Linked DNA regions of Homo sapiens. The protein of the gene in region 3 interacts with the protein of the main gene of each other region in a pairwise test. Each region holds a gene or a part of one and is shown on either strand. Other genes may lie near its edges. The genes, in order: TULP3, ARMC8, TNNT1, HMGXB4, JAKMIP2, WDCP and LARP1.

Region 1 (3,500 bases), on a different chromosome or scaffold from region 3:
CCAAAGTGCTGGGATTACAGGTGTGAGCCACCATACCTGGCAAGATACTCGTTTTCAGGGTATGTGGGCACCTTAGCAAGCTGCAGAATGGATTTTCTTTTCTTTTCTTTTTTTTGAGACAAGAGTGTAGCCCTGTTGCCCAGGCTGGAGTGTAGTGGCATGATCTTGGCTCACTGCAACCTCTGCCTCTCGGGTTCAAGCGATTCTTATGCCTCAGCCTCTCGAGTAGCTAGGACTACAGGCAGACGCCACCATGCCTGGCTAATTTTTTGTATTTTTAGTAGAGACAGGGTTTTGCCATGTTTGTCAGGCTGGTTTCAAACTCCTGGCCTCAAGTGATCCACCCATCTCGGCCTCCCAAAATGCTGGGATTACAGGCGTGAGCCACTGCGCCCAGCCCAGAATGGATTTTCTGATTCTTGCTGTGATATTTCTGACATGGATGCATATTAGGTAGAGTACATTTATTTCGTCTGATGAAAATGGATTAAAGTACAACATAGTTCCTTTGAGCCAAGTTGCTCATCTATTTGTATGATGAGAGGTCATCACTGCACTGAATGATATTTTAAGAAGTCTAGTTTAAAAATTTTAGTCTTACCTTCCTATGATCTTGCTTTGTGGGCGGGGAGATTAAGTTAGTTTTTTTATTTTGTTTTTTTTTTTTGAAACAGAGTCTCGTTCTGTCGCCAGGCTGGAGTGCAGTGGTGCAATCTCAGCTCAGGCTCACTGCAACCTCCACCTCCCAGGTTCAAGCGATTCTCCTCCCTCAGCCTTCTGAGTAGCTGGGACTACAGGCGCATGCCTCCACGCCCAGCTAATTTTTTTAATTTTTAGTAGAGATGGGATTTCACCATGTTGGCCAGGATGGTTTCAATCCTTTGACCTCGTGATCTGCCCGCCTCAGCCTCCCAAAGTGCTGCGATTACAGGCGTGAGCCACCGTGCCCGGCCGAGATTTTTAAACAAACTGATAGACTGCAGACAACTAGCCTGATGCTGGTTGTACTCTGTGGTTGGTCAGTCTGTTGGAAAACTGTCATAGTGTAACCTTAGCCCATCACCTCTAGGGTGACTCCTTGTCTAGGAAAATTGAGAATTAGTTAAACTATCATTAATTTAAATGAAGTTTTATTTATTTTGAGATGGTTGCTCTGTTGCCCAGGCTGGAGTGCAATGGCGCGATCTTGGCTCACTGCAACCTTTGCCTCCCGGGTTCAAGCAATTCTCCTGCCTCAGCCTCCCAAGTAGCTGGATTTACAGGCTTGTGCCACCACATCCAGCTAATTTTTGCATTTTTAGTAGAGATGGGGTTTCCGGCATGTTGGCCTCGAATTCCTGACCTCAAGAGATCGGCCCACCTCAGCCTCCCAAAGTGCTGGGATTACAGGCATGAGCCACTGCGCCGGTCAGAGCTTTATTATTTTATTGGATAAAGTTATTTCATGGAAATTTCCACCTATCTGATCTCCTTTAATTTCTTACTGTTTATTTTGACATCACCATTCAATATTTTAGCAGGATAGTAAGACATACCACTAAATTCTTGGGAAGATAGATTCTTTTACAGTTCAATTCCCAAGATAATTAGGAAATTTAAAAGTGATTAAGTTTTAGTTTATATGACACTTAAAATCACGAAGGCAGTGTGTTTTAATTGCATTTAGGGCATCTAACCATCAGCTCTGGCTTTCTTCCTGGCTCCCTGACTTACTCTATCTTGGTAATGAGTCCTTCATTGATGTAGCCTCGTTTAAAGCACTTTTAGGTTTTCAGGGAAGTAAAATATAGATGGAATAGGAATTGACATTGTTACATTCAAACACAAGTAGCACTTCTCTCCTCCCCCATCCAAACTGCATGACGGTTTTCACCAAGATGGCAGCTTGCACATATATGTTTAATGGTATTTTTCTTATTTGTAAACTTGGACAGTAGTAAGATCATTCAATACTGAGGTATAGTAGCTGTGGCCCTGATTACAGTTTGAGTCTACAGTTGTTTTTTTCTTAAGTCATTGGTCTAAATGAGTTTGATTTGTCTGTAAGTAGATAGAGAGAGGCTTCCCCAGATACCTTGGCAGGAACACTGTGGTCAGGGGTCTAGTCTCCCCTTAACAAGTGAGAGCTTAGTTTGTCAGTGAACTGGATATAACCAGGTCCTTTGGCACAAATTCACGCTAGTTAAACCCACACCAGTAAGTTTTAAAACCAGAACCCCAAGTTATTAATTTATAAAGGGAGCTCTACTCTTTCAGTGTGTATTCATGTCTACTGTTCATAATACTCTTTTCCTGGGAATACGATACCTAAGAAGTTAAACTTCAAATTAGAAGGCTTATTGGTGAGCAAGGAATCAGAGGGAATGAGGTCAGGAGTTTGAGACCAGCCTGGTCAACATGGTGAAACTCCATCTCTACTAAAAGTTTAAAAATCAGCTGGGCATGGTGGGGTGCACCTGTAATCCCCGCTACTCGGGAGGCTGAGGCAGGAAAATTGCATGAACCCGTGAGGCAGAGGTTGCAGTGAGCCGAGATCGCACCACTGCACTCCAGCCTGGGCAACACAGCGAGACTCTGTCTCAAAAAAAAAAAAAGATACTTCTCTTTCTTGGACAAACCTGATAACCCTATCAAATTCTAGCTCTTTGGCCTCCCTTTTCTAGACCACAGCAGAAAACTCCTTTTCTATAGAAAATATTTTCCTTGGCCAGGTACGGTGGCTCATGCCTGTAATCCCAGCACTTTAGGAGGCCAAGGCGGGCGGATCATGAGGTCAGGAGATCGAGACCATCCTGGCCAACACGGTGAAACCTCATCTTTACTAAAAATACAAAAAATTAGCCGGGCGCGGTGCCGGACGCCTGTAGTCCCAGCTCCTCGGGAGGCTGAGGCAGGAGAATGGCGTGAACCCGGGAGGCGGAGCTTGCAGTGAGCCGAGATCGCGCCACTGCACTCCAGCCTGTGTGACAGTGCAAGACTCTGTCTCAAAAAAAAAAGAAAATATTTTCCTTGCATGTGAACCCCATCTCTACTAAAAATACAAAAAAAATTAGCTGGGTGTGGTGGCAGGTGCCTGTTATCCTAGCTACTCCGGAGGCTGAGTCAGGAGAATTGCTTGAACCCAGGAGGCAGAGATTGCAAGTGAGTTGAGGTTGCACCATTGCACTCCAGCCTGGGCAGCAAGAGTGAAACTCCGTCTCAAAAAATAGCTACAGCATTCATTTTTGTTTTTGTTTTTGTTTTGAGACAGTCTCGCTCTGTCGCCCAGGCTGGAGTGTAGTGGTCCAATCTCGGCTCACGGCAACCTCTGCCTCCCAGGTTCAAGTGATTCTCCTGCCTCAGCCTCCCAAGTAGCCGGGATTACAGGCGCTTGCCACCACGCCTGGCTAATTTTATTTTTTAATAGAGACGGGGTTTCACCATGTTGGCCCGGCTGGTCTCAAACTCCTGACCTCAGGTAATCCGCCCACCTCGACCTCCCAAACTGCTGGGATTACAGG
Region 2 (3,500 bases), on a different chromosome or scaffold from region 3:
TTTGAGATGGAGTTTTGCTCTTGTTGCCCAGACTGGAGTGCAGTGGCGCAATCTCGACTCACTGCAACCACCGCCTCCGGGGTTCAAGCGATTCTCCTGCCTCAGTCTCCTGAGTAGCTGGGATTACAGGCATCCACTACCATGCCTGGCTAATTTTTTTGTATTTTTAGTAGAGACAGAGTCTCACCATGTTGGCCAGGCTGGTCTCAAACTCCTGACCTCAAGTGATCCACCCACCTTGGCCTCCCAAAGTGCTGGGATTACAGGTGTGAGCCACTGCACCCGGCCGAGATTCTTTATCTTCTACATGAACCTGCTATCCTGTATAAACCGGCTTTCTCAGGTTAGAGTGATACAGAATTCTTCCAAACTCCAGTAAATCTTATTCTTCTTACTCATTTGTACATATGAATTTTAACTTTGTATATATATATTCTGTACATCTACTTTGAGCTTCTGCCATTTGCTAGGCAAGCATGGTGTTGAGTTTGGGAATACAGCCGTAAGCTACACAGACCTCTGTCCTTTTGGAAATGTTAGCCTAGTGGGAAAAATAGATATCAAATAATCACACAGTTTGTGAATGGTGATTAGTATTATGAATGAAGTATATAGGGTGCTGTTCAAAACATGTCATAGAGGAAACTGATCTAATATGGAGGGCAATAGGAAGAACTAGGGAAGGTTTCCCTGAAGAAGTGATGCTGAGCTGAAAGTTCAAGGATAAGTAAGAACTAACTAGAAAAAGTGACAGAAGAAGAGCATACAAGGCAAAGGGAACTGCTTTTGCAGAGGTCTTTAATAATACTCTATCTTGTCGTATTAGAGAGTAAATTAATTCAGAAGTAACACTTTGTCTTGCAAATCCTAGGTACTCAGTAAATGTTTGATTGAACTATCTATTTTGGAGGGTTGGACAAACTCTCCAGCCCTGTTTCTAGACTGCACTATGACCACCCCATCCCTCTTTGGTTTGCATTTAACATTACAACATCACCCTTTTCAACAAATTCATAAATTTCTGCAATGTTTTCTATACTTTTGAATTATGTTGATTGCATTTTTAAAAACATTTATTTTGAAATAATTATAGATTCACAGGAAGTTGCAAAGATAGTACAGACAGGTCCCTGTGTACACTTCACCCAGTTTCCCTCATAGGTTACATCTTATATAGTTACATTATAGTATCAAAACAAGGAAATTGATCTTGGTATAAGTATGTATCTGTTTCTGTATCATTTTATCACATGTTTATTTGTGTTACCATTACCACCACTGTCAAGATACAGAACTATTCCGTCACCGCAAAGATCTCCCTCATATTCCCTCTTTATAGTCCCACCTACCCAGCCTCTCCCCGCAACAGGTATCCCTAACCCCTGGCAACCATAATCTGTTCTCCATCTCTATAATGTTGTCATTTTCTATAATGTCATATGAATGGAATCATACAGTATGTGACTTTTTGAGGTTGTTTTTTGTCACTCAGTATAATGCTTTTGAGATCTATCCATATTGTTGTATGTAGCAGTAGTTCCTTTTTATTGTTAAGTAGTATTTCATGGTGTGGATGTACCACAGCTCGTTTAACCATTTACCTGTTGGGCGTTTTGGTTGCTTCTAGTTTTTGGCTATTATAACGTAGTATGAACAATCATGTACAGGTTTGTAAGGACATAACTTTTCATATCTCTGAGCTAAATGCCCAGGAGTGCAATTGCAGGATCAGATGGTAAATGCATGTTTAATTTTAAAATAAACTGACAAACTTTTCCAGAGTGGCTGTACTATTTTACATTTCTACCAGTAATATATGAGACATTGTTTCTCTGTATCCTCACTGCCATTTGATACTGTTATTATTTTTATTTTAGCTGTTTTAGTAGATGTGTAGTAATATCTCATCATGGTCTTAATTTGCATTTCCCTAATGATTAATAATGTTGAGAATATTTTTATTATTTATTTATCCTTTTTTTTTTTTTTTTTTTTGAGACGGAGTCTCCCTCTGTTGCCCAGGCAGGAGTGCAGTGGTGTGATCTCAGCTCACTGCAAGCTCCGCCTCCTGGGTTCACACCATTCTCCTGCTTCAGCCTCCTCAGTAGCTGGGACTACAGGTGCCCGCCACCACACCTGGCTAATTTTTTATATTTTTAGTAGAGACGGAGTTTCACTGTGTTAGCCAGGATAGTCTCAATCTCCTGACCTCATGATTCACCCTTCTCGGCCTCCCAGAGTGCTGGGATTACAGGCTTATTTATCCTTTTGAGACAGTCTTGCACTGTCACCTAGGCTGGAGTGCTATGGCGTGATCTCAGTTCACTGCAACCTCTGTCTCCTGGGCTCAAGCAATCCTTCTGCCTCAGCCTTCCAAGTAGCTGGGACTACAGGTGTGTGCCACCATGCCTGGCCATGTAGACGGGGTTTCACCATGTTTCTCAGGCTGGTCTGGAACTCCTAAGTGTAAGCCATACTCCCAGCTCAGCCTTTCAAAGTGTTGGGATTACAGGTGTGAGCCACTGCACCTGGCCTGAAAATCTTCGCTTATTTGCCATCCATGTTTTCTCTTTGGTGAAATATTTCTTCATGTCCTTTTGCCCACTTTCTAATTGGAGTGTTTGCTTCTTTACTGTGGTGTTTTAAAAGCTCTTTATAGGTTTTATTTTTATTTTATTTTATTTTTGATATGTGTTTCGCTCTTGTTGGCAAGGCTGGAGTGCAATGGCCTGGTCTCAACTTACTGCAGCCTCTGCCTCCCAGGTTCAAGCGATTCTCCTCTCTCAGCCTCCCAGGTAGCTGGGATTACAGATGCCCACCACCATGCCTGGCTAATTTTTGTATTTTTAGTAGAGATGGGGTTTCACCATGTTAGTCAGACTGGTCTCAAACTCCTGACCTCAGGCAGTCTGCCCATCTTGGCCTCCCAAAGTGCTGGGATTACAGGTGTGAGCCACCGCGCCGGCTTATCTTATTTTTTGAGAGAGTTTTGCTCTGTCATCCGGGCTGGAGTGCAGTGGTGTGATCTCAGCTCACTGCAACCTCTGCCTCCCAGGCTCAAGAGATTCTCGGGCCTCTGCCTCCCAAGTAGCTCAGATTACAGGCGTGTGCCACCGCGCCCAGCTAATTTTTTGTGTGTATTTTTAGTAAAGATGGGGTTTCGCCATGTTGGCCAGGCTGGTCTCAATCTCCTGGCCTCAGGTGATCTGCCCACCTTGGCCTCCCCAAGTGTTGAGATCATAGGCGTGAGCCACCGTGCCCAGCCAAAAGCTCTTTATATGTTTTAAATCTGAACCCTTTGTAAGATAGGTATTTGCAAATATTTTCTCCTAATCTGTAACTTGCCTTTTCATCCTCTTAACCACAATTTAAGATGAACCTTGATCTCATACCTTATACAAAAAGTAACTCAAAATGGATCATAGATTTTATCATAAAATAAAACTTTTAGAATAAAACAGGAGAAAATCTGCAGAACCTTAGGTTTGGTGAATAACTTT
Region 3 (3,500 bases):
CCAACATGGTGAAACCCTGTTTGTACTAAAAATACAAAAATTAGCTGGTAATGGTGGCACATGTCTGTAATCCCAGTTACTTGGGAGGCCGAGGCAGGAGAATCACTTGAACCCAGGAGGTGGGGGTTGCAGTGAACAGAGCAGAGATTGCACCACTGCACTCCAGCCTGAGTGACAGAGCGAGACTCCATCTCAAAAACAGAAAGGAAACTAATTCAGGTACGGAGTGCTGGGTGTACAAAAAGCCTCATGTCCACCATAAGGAGACGGGGCTCAGCCTGGACAAACCACTGTTTCTGGAACATTCAATGAAGAGTTTCTCGAATGTCGTAATGCCTTCGCTCAATATTCCAGAACCCCTTCCTCAGGCTCAAGGCCATCAGCCTCTTTAATCTCCCCAGTCCCTGGTCTTATCACCAGTTACTTCCCTTGACCCCCTCAAAACAGACATTCTCATATCCTGAGACTAAGGGCGACTGTGGCCCAGACAGGCTGAGCATCTGGAGTGAGGTCGTACAGCAGAGTTCACTATCGGCTATTTCAGGGTGGAGACATGCAGAAAAAGCAGGCATTTCTTCTTCTCCTTCATTTCGATTTTTTCTGGGAGGATATTAAGACCCAGAGAAGGGGGCCAGGTGCGGTGGCTCACGCCTGTAATCCCAGCACTCCGGGAGGCCGAGGCAGGCGGATCACTTGAGGTCAGTAGTTTGAGACCAGCCTGGCCAACATGGTGAAACCGCGTCTCCACTAAAAATACAAAAATTAGTTGGGCGCGGTGGCGGGTGCCTGTAATCCCAGCTACTCAGGAGGCTGAGGCTGGAGAATTGCTTAAACCCGGGAGGCGGAGGTTGCAGTGAGCCAAGATCGCACCACTGCACTCCAGCCTGAGCAACAGAGCGAGAGTCCGTCTCAAAAAAAAAAAAAAACAGAGGGGAAGGGACTTGTAGGTGGTCACACGGGGAGACGTGGCAGGGCCGGGAGTGGGTACCCCTGCGTTTCTGCTGGTTCTGATGTCCCAGCAGCCTCTGCGGCACTGGGTCTGCTGATCCCTGTGCCCCAGTTCCACATCCCAGGGCCCTCCTCCCTCAGTCCTACAGGGGAGTCCATGAGGTTAACCCCTTACTTCCCACAGGAGGAGAAGATGAGGAAGGAAGAGGAAGAGGCCAAGAAGCGGGCAGAGGATGATGCCAAGAAAAAGAAGGTGCTGTCCAACATGGGGGCCCATTTTGGCGGCTACCTGGTCAAGGTGAGTCAGCCTGCAGGAGCCTGAGGTCTGAGTTCTGAGGGGGCAGGGGCTGGGGGCCAGACCTCTGGTTCCTAACGGAGGAGGGGCTGAGGCCTGGATTCCTGGGTCTGAGGGAGGAGGGGCTGGGCCCTGAACTCCTGGGTCTGAGGGAGGAGGAGCTGGGGTCTGGACGCCTGGGTCTGAGGGAGGAGGGGCTGGGGTCCTGGACTCCTGGGCTGAGGGAGGAGGGGCTGAGGGCCTGGACGCCTGGGTCTGAGGGAGGAGGGGCTGGGGGCCAGACTTCTGGTTCCTAATGCGAGAGGGTCTGGGGCTTGGACTCAGTCTGAGAGGAGGGGCTGGGGGCCTGGACTCCTGGGTCTGAGGGAGGAGGGGCTGGGGGCCTGCACTCCTGGGTCTGAGGGAGGAGGGGCTCGGGGCCTGCAATCCTGGGTCTGAGGGAGGAGGGGCTGGGGTCTGGACTCCTGGGCTGAGGGAGGAGGGGCTGGGGGCCAGACTTCTGGTTCCTAATGCGAGAGGGTCTGGGGCTTGGACTCAGTCTAAGAGAAGGGACTGGGGGTCTGGACTCCTCCTGAATCTGAGGGAGGAGGGAGTGGGGCTGGACTCCTAGGTCTGAAGGAGATGGGCCTGGGGTGCAGACCTGTGGTCCCAACATGGAAATGGTCTGTGGGATCCGACGTGTGGGTCCCGACACGGCAGTGCTCTGTGGGATGTGGCCCCCAGTTTACTGTTCCGCCTCCCCCACCCTCAGGCAGAACAGAAGCGTGGTAAGCGGCAGACGGGGCGGGAGATGAAGGTGCGCATCCTCTCCGAGCGTAAGAAGCCTCTGGACATTGACTACATGGGGGAGGAACAGCTCCGGTAGGTGCTGTGGGGGGCTCGGGGTGTAGGGGCCTGGGTGTGAGACAGGGGGATAAAGGAGCTCACACCCAGATCTGGGTGGGCAGATACTCCGGGTCTCAGCTCCAGTGCTATGTGACTTTGGGCAAGTGGCTTCCCCTCTCTGGGCCTCTGCTGCCTTCTTTGTGAAACATGTCACTGAACCCACTTTTCGTGGCTGCCGTGGCCTGTAGCATCTGACAGGTGTTACCAAGGAAGCCAGACAAGATGACTTCCCTCCCCCAAGTTTAGGAGATTTTGTTAACTCCGTGATGTGCCTTGGAGCTCAGGATGGGCTGTGCCTTTTACCTAAATTCAAGCCAGGAATGCGGGTGAGAATTTTCCAGCTGAGTCCCTCGCATCTATAGCCAAGACAGCCTGCCTCTCATGATAAGCTACAGGACGGCAGGCTGGTGGGGGCTTGCCTTCAGGAGCCCGCCTGTTTCTCCATGTTCTCTGGCCTGGGCTGTGGCTCAGAAACTTCAACCACCCCAGAGTGGCGCCGTGATCGGGTTTGCCGCTTGCACCGAAAGCCCCTGCCCAGGGCTCAGTGCCAGCTTTGCCGGCTACTTTGTGATCTTGCGCACGTTATCTGACTTCTCTGGGGCTCCCATTCCTCATTGGCAGAACAAGGATATAATCACAAAATTGACCTCACAGAGCTGTGAAAGGGCAGTGAGATAGTAATAATAATTACAGGCTGGGCCCGGTGGCTCATGCCTGTAATTCCAGCACTTTGGGAGGCTAAGATGGGAGGATTGCTTGAGGCCAGGAGTTGGAGACCAGCCTGGGCAATGTAGTGAGACCCCATCCTTAAAAAAATAATAATTACAGCAGCAGCTTCCTGTGGAGGGTTTACAACCCTGTGAGGTAGATACTATTATTATCCTTGTGTTAATAGTGAGGAACCTGAGGCACAGAGAGGTTAAGTAACCCTTCCAGGGTTGCACAGCTAGCAAGTGGAAGAGCTGGGATTTGAACCCGGCAGTCTGGTGCAATAGTCCGTACTCTTTGCTAGTGTGCTGTAAAGTGGCTTCATGGTAAATGTTTAACAGCTGCTCTCCAGGGGGCAAAATGTCTAGATTTAGCACATGCCCATTCCCAGGGCGTAAATACTTCCACCTTGCTCCTTTCAAACTACCCGTGTGGGGACACTGAGTGTGGAGACGGGAAAGGATGTGCACAGCAGGCTCCTGGAAGCCCTCTGGGGGGCGCTGTGGGCCCTCCTTCCTGTGCACATGGTTCATGTAAAGTATTGTTGGCCGGGCGGGCGCGGCGGCTCACACCTGTAATCCCAGCACTTTGGGAGGCTGAGGCGGGCAGATCACCTGAGGTCAGGAGACCAGCCTGACCAATATGATGAAATCCCATCTCTACT
Region 4 (3,500 bases), on a different chromosome or scaffold from region 3:
TTGTTCTGAGTGCCGATAAACCAGTGTGAAGGAGGAGAGAGGTGGAGGGCTGGTATTTTGGAGGATTCAGCATAGAAGAACAGTCTGCATTTGTGATACACCAGGTACCAGGTTCCTTCTCCCCCCAATCATCCACTTATCTTGTGCCCATTGTTATCTAGCATCCCTTTTGCCATACGTAGTCCTCTGGCCTGCACCTGTGGGTCACTTCTCAACCAGTATATATCCACTCACAGAACCAGTTTTCTTAGCTATGTTATGCACATAGCTGATGAGACTCAACTTTCACCAGAATGGGTTTGTCCTGAACACAGAAACAAATGATACTCTGTCTGCAATCTGAATTGTTAACTTCCCATAATCCCACAGCTATAGTCAGTTCTTCTGGGTATGTGCTCTTTGGTTGCTTCTGAAGACTCAATGAAGAGAAACAACTTTAGTGGCAAGAACTGTGTCCAGGGTCAGAGGCAGACTCTACCAAGCCAAGAAGCACAAGGGCATCATTTCTCAATGTTAGGAATCAGTTAAAGGGTCTCCCTTCAAATCATTCCTGTTAGCCTCTTTCTCATGTTAGCTAGGTGCTTTTGATGAGAGAGGAAACTTGTTAGAAGTTGCTTCCCATCATATTGACAGTACTTCTCTTGATTATTTCTAGATATTTCGTCTTTGGAATCGTCACAGAAGAAAAAGAAAAAGTCCAGCCCACAGTCTACTGATACAGCTATGGACCTGTTGAAAGCTATCACTTCCCCACTGGCAGCAGGCTCCAAGCCCTCCAAAAAGACTGGGGAGAAATCCTCTGGCTCTTCAAGCCATTCGGAGAGTAAAAAGGAGCACCACAGGAAGAAAGTCAGTGGAAGCAGTGGGGAACTACCCCTAGAGGATGGTGGCTCCCACAAATCGAAAAAAATGAAACCTCTCTATGTGAACACAGAGACACTGACCCTTCGGGAGCCTGATGGTTTAAAAATGAAACTTATTCTGTCACCAAAGGAGAAGGGAAGCAGCTCTGTTGATGAGGAGTCTTTTCAATATCCCTCCCAACAAGCGACTGTGAAAAAATCCTCAAAGAAATCAGCTCGGGATGAGCAGGGTGCTTTACTCCTAGGACATGAGTTACAGAGCTTTCTGAAAACAGCCCGGAAAAAGCACAAGTCATCCTCAGACGCACATTCATCTCCTGGCCCTGAAGGCTGTGGGTCTGACGCCTCCCAGTTCGCAGAGTCCCACAGTGCTAACCTTGATCTTTCAGGGCTTGAACCTATTCTGGTAGAATCAGACTCATCCTCTGGTGGGGAACTAGAGGCTGGGGAGTTAGTGATAGATGATTCTTACCGAGAAATCAAGAAGAAAAAGAAGTCAAAGAAGAGCAAAAAGAAGAAAGACAAGGAGAAGCATAAAGAGAAGCGACACTCCAAGTCCAAGAGAAGTTTAGGACTTTCTGCCGTGCCAGTGGGAGAGGTCACAGTGACATCTGGCCCTCCTCCCAGCATCCCATACGCTGGAGCAGCAGCACCTCCCCTGCCACTTCCTGGCCTCCACACAGATGGGCATAGTGAAAAAAAAAAGAAAAAAGAAGAGAAGGACAAAGAGAGAGAGAGAGGAGAAAAGGTAAAGCATCTTTTAAGTGTGGTGGGGGTAAGAGATTAAGCAGGTTCTTCCTGGGTAGTCAGTGGACTTTTAAGTTAAGCAGTTGAGGTAAACCACTGGGAATTAAGCATGTTTGGGGGATATGTTGGAATGATATAAAGTATAAAATATTACCAGTAGCCCAGTCTGTCTGATATAGAAGCAATCTTTTTTTTTTTTTTTGAGATGGAGTCTCGCTCTGTCGCCCAGGCTGGAGTGCAGTGGTGCAGTCTGGGCTCACTGCAACCTCCTCCTCCCAGGTTCAAGCCTCACCCTCCCAAGTAGCTGAAATTACAGGCACCCGCCACCACACCCGACTAATTTTTTTTTTTTTTTTTTGTATTTTTAATAGAGACGAGGTTTCACCATGTTGGCCAGGCTGGTCTCAAACTCCTGACCTCAAGTGATCCACCCACCTCAGCCTCCCAAAGTGCTAGGATTACAGGCATGAGCCACCATGCCCGGCCTAGGGTTTCTTAATAGAGTTATTCTCCCATTGTGCCAGGAATAGGTTTAGTTACACTGTGGCTTTTTCCAGCTAGTTCTTAGAATTCACAGAAGGAGCTAAACCCAATTTCTTTCACTTAGCATCACTGTCTGCTTAGGGCAGTTGGGAGATGTCAAAAGGTGTTCTTTGAGTTCATTTTTAAAAACAGACTATCAAAATTGGTAGAACAATGAGCAGTCAAGTTAACAGAATAGCTAATGACTTTCCACCAGCTGGTGTTGGCTACTTTCTGGTATTCTTTTTAGTGTCGAATATATGTTCTTTTACTGTCTGAGTGCTTGCTGTATGCCAAGCTCAATGCTGTAGATAGTACCAGGAAGTAAAAACACAAGCAGGACATAGTTGTTGACTTTAGGGAGCTCACTGTTGATTAGGGAGATAGGAATGATAAATCAGTCACCTTGGTTTGATTTCTTTCCTCATAACAGTTTCTGGCAGTGAACTTTAGGGTCTCATAACTATGTCATTAAAAGTTTCTTTTTTTATTTATAGTTCTGCAAAATGCAATGTCAGATAAAATCTGGAAGAAAAGCGACTAAGAACGAGAAAATCAAATGTATTAAGAATCTGGGGCTGGGTGTGGTGGCTCATGCCTGTAATCCCAGCACTTTGGGAGGCTGAGGCAGGTGGATCCCTTGAGCCCAAGAGTTCGGGACCGGCCTGGGCAACATAGCGAAACCCAGTCTCTACAAAAAAATACAAAAATTTGCCTGGTGTGGGGGTGCACATCTATAGTCCCAGCTACTCAGGAGATTGAGGTGAGAGGATTGCTTAAGCCCAAGAGGTGGAGGCTACAGTGAGCTATAATCTTGCCACTGCAACTTCAGCCTGGACAGCAGAGTGAGGCTCCCTGTCTCAAAAGAAAAAAGAAAAGAATCTAGGAATGGGAATTTAGTTTGATCTCTGAGGTGGAAGTTATTTCTCCACTATAAAGGGTGCCTTTTAAGAAAGTCTGCTTATATCTATCTGTTTATATCTATCTGTAGATCTATATCTGTTTATCAGTATGTGTGTGTGTATATATAATATATATAAAATAATATATTATATATATATACACACACACATCTGTTTATCTCAAAAAAACCACAAAGCTGTACCTCTGAGCCAGGAATCAGTGTGAACATAAAGACCTGGATATTCCAATACTAAGTCAGGTTTTATTCAGTTGTTTATTTGGAAAATTGCTTTATGAAATAAACACTATGTGTTCTTTATAAGATTCTGTTTATCCTAAGAATTTCCAGTCTAGTGACGTGATAATGCCATGGACTAATCATCCAGTGCTGAATGTCGGAGCACAGGGTCAGGGAAAGCTTGAAGAAGGAGAAGGTTTCAGTGGAAGTGGACGCATGGAGGCAGA
Region 5 (2,896 bases), on a different chromosome or scaffold from region 3:
CTTATCATAGTGCCCATAGCACACACAGTAACAAATGCAGAATGGGAAGACAAGAATAAATCTATTTACTGTCCTGGATATAGAGTTTATTTCCCTACATTACACTGATAGCCCTGATTTGCCTCACCCTGTTTTTCAAAAGTAGATTAGAGGAAGGGCGCTGTCGCTCATGCCTGTAATTCCCAGCACTTTGGGAAGCCAAGGCTGGTGGATTGCTTGAGCCCAGGAGTTCGAGACCAGTCCGACCAACATGACGAAACCCCATCTCTACTAAAAATACAAAGAAATTACCAGGTGTGGTAGTGCACGCCTGTAGTCTCAGCTACTTGGGAGGCTGAGGCAGAAGAATCACTTCAACCTGGGAGGCGGAGGTTGCAGTGAGCCAGTGAGCCGAGATCGCACCACTGCACTCCAGCCTGTGCAACAGACCAAGACTGTCTTAGAAAAAAACAAGTGGAAGAGTTCATTAAACAAACAGCTATAAACAATGAAAGATAAAGTTTTTAAAAAATGCAGCTTGTTTTATTTTTATATAAACTAAAACACCAGAGTTCATCGATTCCTATATTAAATACATAAATTATAAAATAACCATTCATAAAACTTTACATACAGTAAGTTGATTCCAATCTCTACGGTAATACATACAGTACATGTACATATTCGGTGTACTTCAGAGGATCATTCTGGTGAAACTCAGTCAATTTTTATTTTTCTTTCATTAATAAACAAGCACTGAAGTGATATATGGAGTCATGCTAATGAGATGGAAAGAAAGAACCCCAATTGAGGCAGTTGATTGAATGAAAGCTCTGTGAAATTGGACCCTTGGCTACATTAACACAGTAAACACCTGGGGAATTATGTATTCAAACACATTAGCTCTATACTTGAGTCCCCAAAGTATTGGATCTTGAAGGCTAAAACATGCATGAACCCTGTTGAGATGGAATTTTTAGCTAATAAAGATATGGGACTTTTGGCTAATTTTAATACTGTAGATTGTGCTGAACTTTCTGTTGCTCTTTCAAAAAAAAGAAACATCAACCAACCAACCAAACAAATAAAAAAAACCTATTTGCTGGTTTATGGGCCTGGATAATTGAAAAACCGAGTGGTCTCTGCCTCAGTCAACAATTGGAAATAATAGTAGTGAACAGAAGGTGGGGTAAGGGAGAGAAGAGGTAGTCAAGGATGGGAAGAGTTCAAACACTAAATGCTCGACAAAAACATGAGTTCCCAGCAGAAGCAGCAGCAGCGCAGAAAAAACCTTTCTTGAAGTCCTGCATCCTAGAACAGAAGTACACGTTTAGTAAGCGCTCACACCATCATACTATGTACAGAATATATCTGTGCATATATTTACATCACATATTTATAAAAATGTTTGGATTTTGATCTGCCTCATTGTGGGAAGTTGCTATGGTTAATGGCTGGTATAGGCACAGTCTGTGAGATGTCAGTCAAATAGAAGTGTTGTTACTAACAGATGCTGGGGATCTGTTTTAGTTGGAAAATTGCATCATCCACTCTTTAGTAAGTTCGTGGGATCTTGATTGTGGGCAAAATTGGGCTCAAAGTTGTTTAACTTTACCATTCTCACCCTACAGAACTTTGCATATAACAAGGATGAAAATATAAGCATGGGTACAAAGACCGTAATGCAGAAAAAAACAAAAACAGGAACCCTCACCAAATCAACCACGTGTATCTCTGCCACATTAATTTGAATATAGGAAATTATAATCCTATTTTTGCTACATTGCCCCTATAAGTATATCTTTAGTAGTTTTTTTCCTCTCTCCCTCTTTTCTTTCTTTCTTTTTTTTTTTTTTTTTTGAGATGAGGTCTCACCATGTTGCCCAGGCCGTTATGAAACTCCTGGGCCCAAGCTATCCTGCCACCTTAGCCTTCTGAGTAGCTATCTTTAGGAATTTTGATTAAGCATTGGACTTGGACTCCCAGCAAGAGATTTATTTAGGAAGAACTAAACCGCCAAACTAATGACAGCAAAGGATTGTGAATCTGCCCTGCCCCATTCTGAAATGGAATAATAGAATTTGGCACTTGAAGAGGCCTTACAGGGATTAGCTCCAACTTTCCATTATGTCTGTATCTTCTTGCCAATATGCCTGAAATTAGATCTCAAGATACTACATTATATAGAAATGACAAGGCAGTAGAACACAATGACATCTTTCCTCACTTAAGACCTAGAAGTCTGCTTAAAGAGGGGCTTGGGTCCATATTGGAAGCATAAACTCATGACATAAACAGTCATCTAAGATTTGCTTTGAATGTTTATCATTCAAAAGTTATATTGAATTTTTTCAATGTAATAGATAAATCTAAATTAGTAAAATGATAGAATTAAACTGCCAAAAGCTGTCATTAATTACCAAAACACTGTTATGAAAATTTCACAAAAGGCAACAAGCAATGCAACTCCCAAATTACAGAGCAAATTTCTATTGCTCTGTGTGTGTGTGTGTGTGTGTGTGTGTTTGTGTGTGTATTCTGTGCCACTCTTTGACAGATTGAAATAATGCAATTAAATATTTTAAAAATAAAATTTCTATGCTGTCCATCTATCTTGATGTAATATAACACAGATGATCCAATTATTTAAACATCAACACAAAACCAATGAATATTCTTTTTACAGTTTCTACAAAAACCTAGGCAGGTTAAAAAGACGTGCTTCATTTTGAAACAATGAACTTGTGAATTATGTTAAAGCAAACATAAGAATTACACAATGGGTTTACAGGAAAATTTGACAGTCAATGGGCAAAAAGGAACAAGTTTGCCAGAGATTTATTTAAAATTGAAAGCAAAGTTGAAACAAAATACTGCAGCAAAATTTATTTGGCAAACTTTATTTCTCCTATTACTA
Region 6 (3,500 bases), on a different chromosome or scaffold from region 3:
GTTATTTCATTGTGACAACCTTTTCCTTATATAATAGAGATACTCCTCCAGTTATAAAAAAGGTTATGTTGCTGGGCTCCATGGCTCACGCCTGTAATCCTAGCACTTTGGGAGGCCGAGGCAAGTGGATCACCTGAGGTCAGGAGTTCGAGACCAGCCTGGCCAATGTGGTGAAACCCTGTCTCTAACAAAAATATAAAAATTAGCTGGGCATGGTGATGGGCGCCTGTAATCCCAGCTACTTGGGAAAGCAGGAGTATCACTTGAGCCCGGGAGGCACAGGTTTCAGTGAGCCGAGACTGTGCCACTGCACTCCAGCCTGGGCAACAGGGCGAGACTCCGTCTCAAAGAAAAAGGAAAAGGTTATGTTCATTTAAAATGTTTTGATGCATTTCTTTATGCATGCATGTCCAAACATTATATAAGTGGGATCATATTATACATGTTTTTATCATGGACACTTTCCTCCTATATAAAATATGGCCTTGCCCCATCTTCCCCTTAATCCGCTGTAACCAGCAGCTTAACATGGATCCTTTCGTGACTTTCTCCATGGTCACATGATCTAACACAGGTCTTTGTGTACATAGATATATAGGTATGTGGGAATGGTTTGTCATTGTTTTTACAAAAATAGGGTGATATGGTGCACTCTTTACTTCATACTGAGAGTATGCTCTTTATTTAGCCATTCCCTTGTTGATTGACATTCACTTTGTTTTTAGTTTTTAGCTACTCCAAATGATGCTGCAGTAGTACTCTTATATGTATCCATTCATATTAGTACCTTTATTTCTGTTGGATTGGTTCCCAGAAGTAGAAATGCAAATTTGAAGAGTATATGTGTTTCTACTTTTAATTGAGTTACCAGATTGCCTCTCAAAGATTTTTACTTAACAGTGCATCATCACACGCCCGCCAGCTATGTATAAGGCTGTCCTTTTCCTCGTATGTCACCAATCTGATCAGTGACCCTCCTGCTTCAGCCTCCTGAGCAGCTGAGACTACAAGCACATGCCACCACACTTGGCTAATTTTTTTTTTTTTTAGCAGAGACAGGATCTTGCTATGTTGCCTAGGCTGATCATGACCTCCTGGGCTCAAGTGATAGTCTTGCCTCAGCCTCCCAAAGTGCTGGGATTACAGGTGTGTGCCACTGCATGTGGCCCCAACCCTACATTTTTTTAAAGAGGATTTTTGCCACATTAACTACATGGAGTTTTCAGTAGTAGAGTTTTAATTTTTTTTTTTAAGTCACAGCTTTGCTGTGAGGAGCATTTTATTTTATTTATTTATTTATTTATTTATTTATTTATTTATTTATTTTTGAGACGGAGTCTCTGTCACCAGGCTGGAGTGCAGTGGCGCGATCTCAGCTCGCTGCAACCTCCAACTCCCAGGTTCTAGCAATTCTCCTGCCTCAGCCTCCCAAGTAGCTGGGATTACAGGCACGTGCCACCACACCTGGCTAATTTTTGTATTCTTAGTAGAGGCGGGGTTTCACCGTGTTGGCCAGGATGAGCTCAATCTCCTGACCTTGTGATCTGCCCGCCTTGGCCTCCCAGAGTGCTGAGATTACACGTGTAAGCCACTGCGCCCGGCCTAATTTTTTTTTAATTAAAAAAAATTTTTTTTTAACTATAGAGACAAGGTCTTGCTATGTTGCCCAGGCTTGTTTGGAAGTCCTGGGCTCAAGCAGTCCTCCTGCTTCAGCCTCCCAAAGCGCTGGGATTACAGGTGTGAGCCACTGCACCCAGCCATAGTTTTGATTTTTTTAAAATTATTTTATTTATAAATGTGATAACTGGTTTGGATTTCTTTCCTACTATGACTTTTTAAAGAGTTTGTTTTCTTTTTCTTCTGTCTTTTTTTAATAGGTAATTCATTTATTTGGTTTAAAAAGCAAAACTGTATTTTAATAAAAACTGTATACCAAGAACTCTTATTCCTACCCTATGTTTCTTCAGCCTGTTCTCCTTTCCTCCTTTAGGTAACCATTTTTATTTTTATTTCTTTATGCAGATACTAGCAGACTTTAGTTATGTATTTTTATTTCCCCTTTTGTTACACAAAAGGGAAGGTGATATACACACCTTTTCATTTTCCATTTAATAGTATGTCCTAGAGAGCTCTTTATATCAGCACACAGAGCTCTTTTTTCATCTTTTTTTCCACAGCTGCATAGTATTTTTTTTTCCTAATTACAAAAGTAATATATACTTGTTGAGGAAAAAAATTTTACCATTACAGAAAGTAAAAATTTTCCATAATCCAACCTTTAGAGAAAATCACAGATATAGCTAAATATTTTATTAGATGTTAGATGTAAATATTTCCATATTTTTTCTGTACATTTATCTAATCCAAAAAAAATCTAATATAAAAATATATTATTTTTAAAATTTTCTTTAAATAGGCTATTTTACTTGCAAACAATAATATATCTTTCTGTTTTTAAAACACTTATAAATGTAAAATTTTATATTTTTAAAAACTAAGGTTAAAACAACCATGTTTGGCCAGGCACAGTGGCTTAAACCTGTAACCCCAGAACTTTGGGAGGCCGAGATGGGTAGATCACTTGAGTCCAGGAGTTCGAGACCAGCCTGGGCAGCATGGCAAAACCCTGTCTCTACCGAAAAATACAAAAATTAGCCAGCCGTGATGGCACCCACCTGTTTTCCCAGCTACTTGGGAGGCTGAGGTGTGAGGATCACCTAAGCTGAGGAGGTTGAGGCTGCAGTGAGCTGTGATCGTGCCACTGCACGCCAGCCTGGGAAACAGAGCAAGACTCTGTCTCAAAAAAAAAAAAAAAAAGTTTTGTTGCCCTTTCAATTCCTCAGTTTTTTAGTTTATAATTATGTCATCCAACCAAGCTGTTGTCAGTAGTTATCTCTGGAGGATAGAATTTTGGGGGCTTTACTGTCTGCATTATATATTTCTGTTATATTTTTATTTTATTTATTTATTTTTAGATAGAGCTTTGCTTTGTCACCCAGGCCGGAGTGCAGTGGCGCGATCTTGGCTCACTGCAACCTCCGCCTCCTGGGTTCAAGCGATTCTCTGCCTCAGCCACCCAGGTAGTTGGGATTACAGGTGTGCACCACCACACCCAGCTAATTTTTGTATTTATAGTAGAGATGGGGTTTCACCATGTTGGCCAGGCTGGTCTCGAACTCCTGACCTCAAGTGATCCACCCGCCTTGGCCTTCCAAAGTTCTGGGATTACAGGCGTGAGCCACCACACCCGGCCCTATTATACTTTTAAAAAATTGATCATTTATTCCTTTTGTAATGAGAAAAGTAAAAGTTACACAATAATCAAAAGCAAGAAATAGTTTCCCCTGTAATTTCAGAAATTACATTTCATAAGACGTGAAATAAATGATTAGTTGGTTTTGACTTTTACAGTTTATTCCTGTGACTTCATTTAAAAATATTAGTGGACATATTCTTTGAGTGGTTCATCCTACCACAGTGATGTATAGTTTTATTTTCTT
Region 7 (3,500 bases), on a different chromosome or scaffold from region 3:
TCTTGGGAGTTAACGAGGAGTCTCTAACACACTGACGGCCACTGACCAGCTTATTTTAGAGATGAAAAAGAGGGCTAATGTGTGGGAAAGGGATCTGCCCAAGGTAACCAGATTGTGATTTGGGCCCAAGTCCAGGGCAGAAGAAGAGGAGTTGGGTAGAGCTGGCTAGGAGTGGCCTCTCCCTCAAGCCTTTCTCATGTACCCATGCTGTCTCCCAGGAAACAAACACAAGTGGGTTCCATTACAAATAGACATGAAGCCTGAAGTGCCCAGAGAGAAACTGGCTTCACGCCCCACTCGCCCACCGGAGCCTAGACACATACCTGCCAATCGCGGAGAGATCAAAGGTATGCACTACCCACTATGGAGGGCCTGGACTTGGGAGACACCCTCAGGCCTGACCTGGTACCCCTCTCCCCATAGGGTCTGAGTCTGCCACCTACGTGCCCGTGGCCCCCCCCACCCCAGCCTGGCAACCAGAGATCAAACCGGAGCCTGCCTGGCACGACCAGGATGAGACATCGAGTGTGAAGAGTGATGGGGCTGGTGGGGCGCGGGCTTCCTTCCGTGGCCGTGGACGGGGGCGTGGTCGCGGCCGGGGACGCGGCCGGGGTGGCACTCGAAGTACGTGAGGCCCCTTTGGGCTCCGGGATGTCCAAGGGTGTGCAGCAGGGGTGGTGGGCAGGAATCTCCTCTCCCTCATGGCACCCGTTTCCCCCATAGCCCATTTTGACTACCAGTTTGGCTACCGAAAGTTTGATGGTGTGGAGGGGCCTCGTACGCCCAAGTACATGAACAACATCACCTACTACTTTGACAATGTCAGCAGCACCGAGCTTTACAGTGTGGATCAGGAACTGCTCAAAGACTACATCAAGCGCCAGATGTGAGTGTGCGGAAGCCTTCTTACCCTGGAGAAATGAGTGAGAGGTTAGGGGTTGCTAGAGTGTCATAGCTGGGCAGGCCCTTCTGGTGCTTAGCAGCAGTTTCAGCCTCAGGCTGAAAAGATAGCTTTTCTCATTGTTTATTAAAGAAGTGATACCACATTCTCATTGTTTATTACAGAAGTGGTACAACATTTACCTTAAGAAAGTTAGAAACTATACCATTACAAAAAGGAAGGAAAATATTTAGAATCTACCCCCTTCTGTTCTTCCATTTGTAATGACAACATTGACAGAATACTAACATTTATTGAATCCTTAGTATCGGCCAGGCTCAGTGTTTATTGTTGTAGAGGCATTATCTTAGTCCTGCAGTTCTTATCTGTTGAATTCCTATGAGCTGAGTCTTTTAGCCCCAGTTTATAGACAAGCAAACCGGCCCAGTAATTTGCACAGAATCTCACAGCTAGTAAGTAACAAAGCACAGATTTAAATCCTTTTCTGTCCTATTATAGAACCTTTGTTCTTAACCACTCTGATATATTGTCTCTCAGTCCAGTAAGGAAGTCATACAAGAAAATAAATGGTTGCAATAGAGTGTTTATAAGTGTTTTAGGAGCAGAAGAGAAAGTGACCAACAATATTTGGACTGGAATTTAAAGGAGGATGAGGAGTTTGACAGGCATGTCGAGGGGCTTAGGGCAGAGGGAGTGATTTGACCCAAGCAAGGTAGGGTGTCATGAAGGGATCACATCATTTCTTTTCAGCCCTCAACACTGTTGGTATATAGGATAAGGATGGGGTAGGTCAGAGGCTGTGTGAGATTGCTGGGGTGTGTAGCAGAACAAGGAAGGCATACTCATAAAACTGATGCACCAATCCCTCGGTGATAACTACTTCTTCCCTCCACTTAGTGAATACTACTTCAGCGTGGACAATTTAGAGCGAGACTTCTTCCTGCGAAGGAAAATGGATGCTGATGGTTTCCTACCCATCACCCTTATTGCTTCCTTCCACCGAGTGCAGGCCCTTACCACTGACATTTCACTCATCTTTGCGGTATGTCTTCCTCCCTGGAGCTGGGATGCAGGGGAAAGAAAGGTCCTTAGGGAGCTGGAGTTTGGGCCAAGGCAGAAAGCCCTGGAAGAGTCATCATCTGATGACTTCTGCTGAAGTCTCAAGGCTTGGCTAGTCTCCTCCTCTCCCTCCTTCCTTCCTTTCTCTCCCTCTCTTGCTCATTATGGAAAATGTCAGACACTTAACAAAAGTAGAGTAGTATAATGAGCCCATCATCAGCTTCGGCAGGTATCAGTTTATGGCTAATCTTATTCCATCTGTACCCTCATCTGTTTATTCTCACATACTACATTGAAGAAAATCCTAGAAAACCTAGCATTTTGTTCACAAATATTTCAGTATAGATTTCTAAAAGATAGACTTGTTAAAAGAAAATAGCCACAGTATCATTATCATACCTAAATTAACAGTTTAACATATTAACAGTTCCTTAATATCATCAAATATTTAGTTCAGATTCATCCCAATTGGCGCCATATATATATTTATATATATATTTTATATATATTTATATATATTTTATATACATTTATATATAAAATATACATTTATATATATTTATATATTATATATTTATTATATATTTATATTTATATATTATATATTTATATATTATATATATTTTTATACATATTATATATTTATATATTATATATTTTTATATATATTATATATTTATATATTATATATATTTTTATATATATTATATATTTATATATTATATATTTATATATAGTATATATATTATATATATATTTTATATATTTATATATAGTATATATATTATATATATTTTATATATTTATATATTATATATATATTTTATGTATTTATATATTATATATATATTTTATATATATATATAGTTTGTGAGAATCAGAATCCAAATAATACCTATAGGCTGGGTGCAGTGGCTCACACCTATAATCCCTGCACTTTGGGAGGCCAAGGGGAGGGTCATGTGAGCCCAGGAGTTCAAGATTAGCCTGGGTAACATAGCAGGACCCTGTCTCTACAAAAAACTAACAAGACCTGTGTATTGTCTTATTAAGTCTCCTCTTGCCTCTATTTTTCTTTTTCTTTGCCGTTTATTATTTGAATAGACTAAGTTGTACATCCTGTAGGATTTTCCACAGGGCACAGGGATGTCATTTTAACATGTTCATCTGTACTCCAAGTTTTTTGTAAATTGTGATCTAGAGGCCTGATCAGATTCAGGTTTTGAAGTTTTTTCCCCTCCTTGTCAAGAATACTTTATCATAATGATGTATTTTCTCTCAGGTGGCACATAACATTTCATTTGATTGTCTCTCTTGTGCTATAAGCTGCCAGCAGTGTTCGTTAGGATTGCAAAATGACAATATACTAATTCTGTCAGTCGGTCTTCATTTATTAGGTGGAATACCTCTTCAAGAAGTAACTTTGCCTCATCAACTGTTCAGTTACCAAGAGGTATAGTTTGTTCAGGAAGGGCAGATTAATGTTTGATCTTCCTCCCTTTGTTAGCCAGTTTGCATAATTATGAGTTGATCTCTAATA

Evidence for each region.
Region 1: the proteins of TNNT1 (region 3) and TULP3 interact in a two-hybrid assay, tested with the Homo sapiens proteins (one large-scale study listed by BioGRID and IntAct).
Region 2: the proteins of TNNT1 (region 3) and ARMC8 interact in a two-hybrid assay, tested with the Homo sapiens proteins (one large-scale study listed by BioGRID and IntAct).
Region 4: the proteins of TNNT1 (region 3) and HMGXB4 interact in a two-hybrid assay, tested with the Homo sapiens proteins (one large-scale study listed by BioGRID and IntAct).
Region 5: the proteins of TNNT1 (region 3) and JAKMIP2 interact in a two-hybrid assay, tested with the Homo sapiens proteins (one large-scale study listed by IntAct).
Region 6: the proteins of TNNT1 (region 3) and WDCP interact in a two-hybrid assay, tested with the Homo sapiens proteins (one large-scale study listed by BioGRID and IntAct).
Region 7: the proteins of TNNT1 (region 3) and LARP1 interact in a two-hybrid assay, tested with the Homo sapiens proteins (one large-scale study listed by BioGRID and IntAct).

Annotation. Positions count from the first base shown.
Region 1 is NC_000012.12:2,914,891-2,918,390, forward strand, and holds part of TULP3 (tubby-related protein 3), read left to right. Parts: intron 1-3,500. UniProt on the Homo sapiens protein: Negative regulator of the Shh signaling transduction pathway: recruited to primary cilia via association with the IFT complex A (IFT-A) and is required for recruitment of G protein-coupled receptor GPR161 to cilia, a promoter of PKA-dependent basal repression machinery in Shh signaling.
Region 2 is NC_000003.12:138,190,301-138,193,800, forward strand, and holds part of ARMC8 (armadillo repeat-containing protein 8), read left to right. Parts: intron 1-3,500. UniProt on the Homo sapiens protein: Component of the CTLH E3 ubiquitin-protein ligase complex that selectively accepts ubiquitin from UBE2H and mediates ubiquitination and subsequent proteasomal degradation of the transcription factor HBP1.
Region 3 is NC_000019.10:55,135,707-55,139,206, reverse strand, and holds part of TNNT1 (troponin T, slow skeletal muscle), read left to right. Parts: intron 1-1,132; coding exon 1,133-1,246; intron 1,247-1,994; coding exon 1,995-2,104; intron 2,105-3,500. UniProt on the Homo sapiens protein: Troponin T is the tropomyosin-binding subunit of troponin, the thin filament regulatory complex which confers calcium-sensitivity to striated muscle actomyosin ATPase activity.
Region 4 is NC_000022.11:35,263,993-35,267,492, forward strand, and holds part of HMGXB4 (HMG domain-containing protein 4), read left to right. Parts: exon of another isoform or gene 1-104; intron 105-655; coding exon 656-1,611; intron 1,612-3,500. UniProt on the Homo sapiens protein: Negatively regulates Wnt/beta-catenin signaling during development.
Region 5 is NC_000005.10:147,584,938-147,587,833, forward strand, and holds the end of JAKMIP2 (janus kinase and microtubule-interacting protein 2), read right to left. Parts: 3' UTR 501-2,896; downstream 1-500.
Region 6 is NC_000002.12:24,033,892-24,037,391, reverse strand, and holds part of WDCP (WD repeat and coiled-coil-containing protein), read left to right. Parts: intron 1-3,500.
Region 7 is NC_000005.10:154,793,377-154,796,876, forward strand, and holds part of LARP1 (la-related protein 1), read left to right. Parts: intron 1-218; coding exon 219-347; intron 348-423; coding exon 424-624; intron 625-723; coding exon 724-886; intron 887-1,798; coding exon 1,799-1,943; intron 1,944-3,500. UniProt on the Homo sapiens protein: RNA-binding protein that regulates the translation of specific target mRNA species downstream of the mTORC1 complex, in function of growth signals and nutrient availability.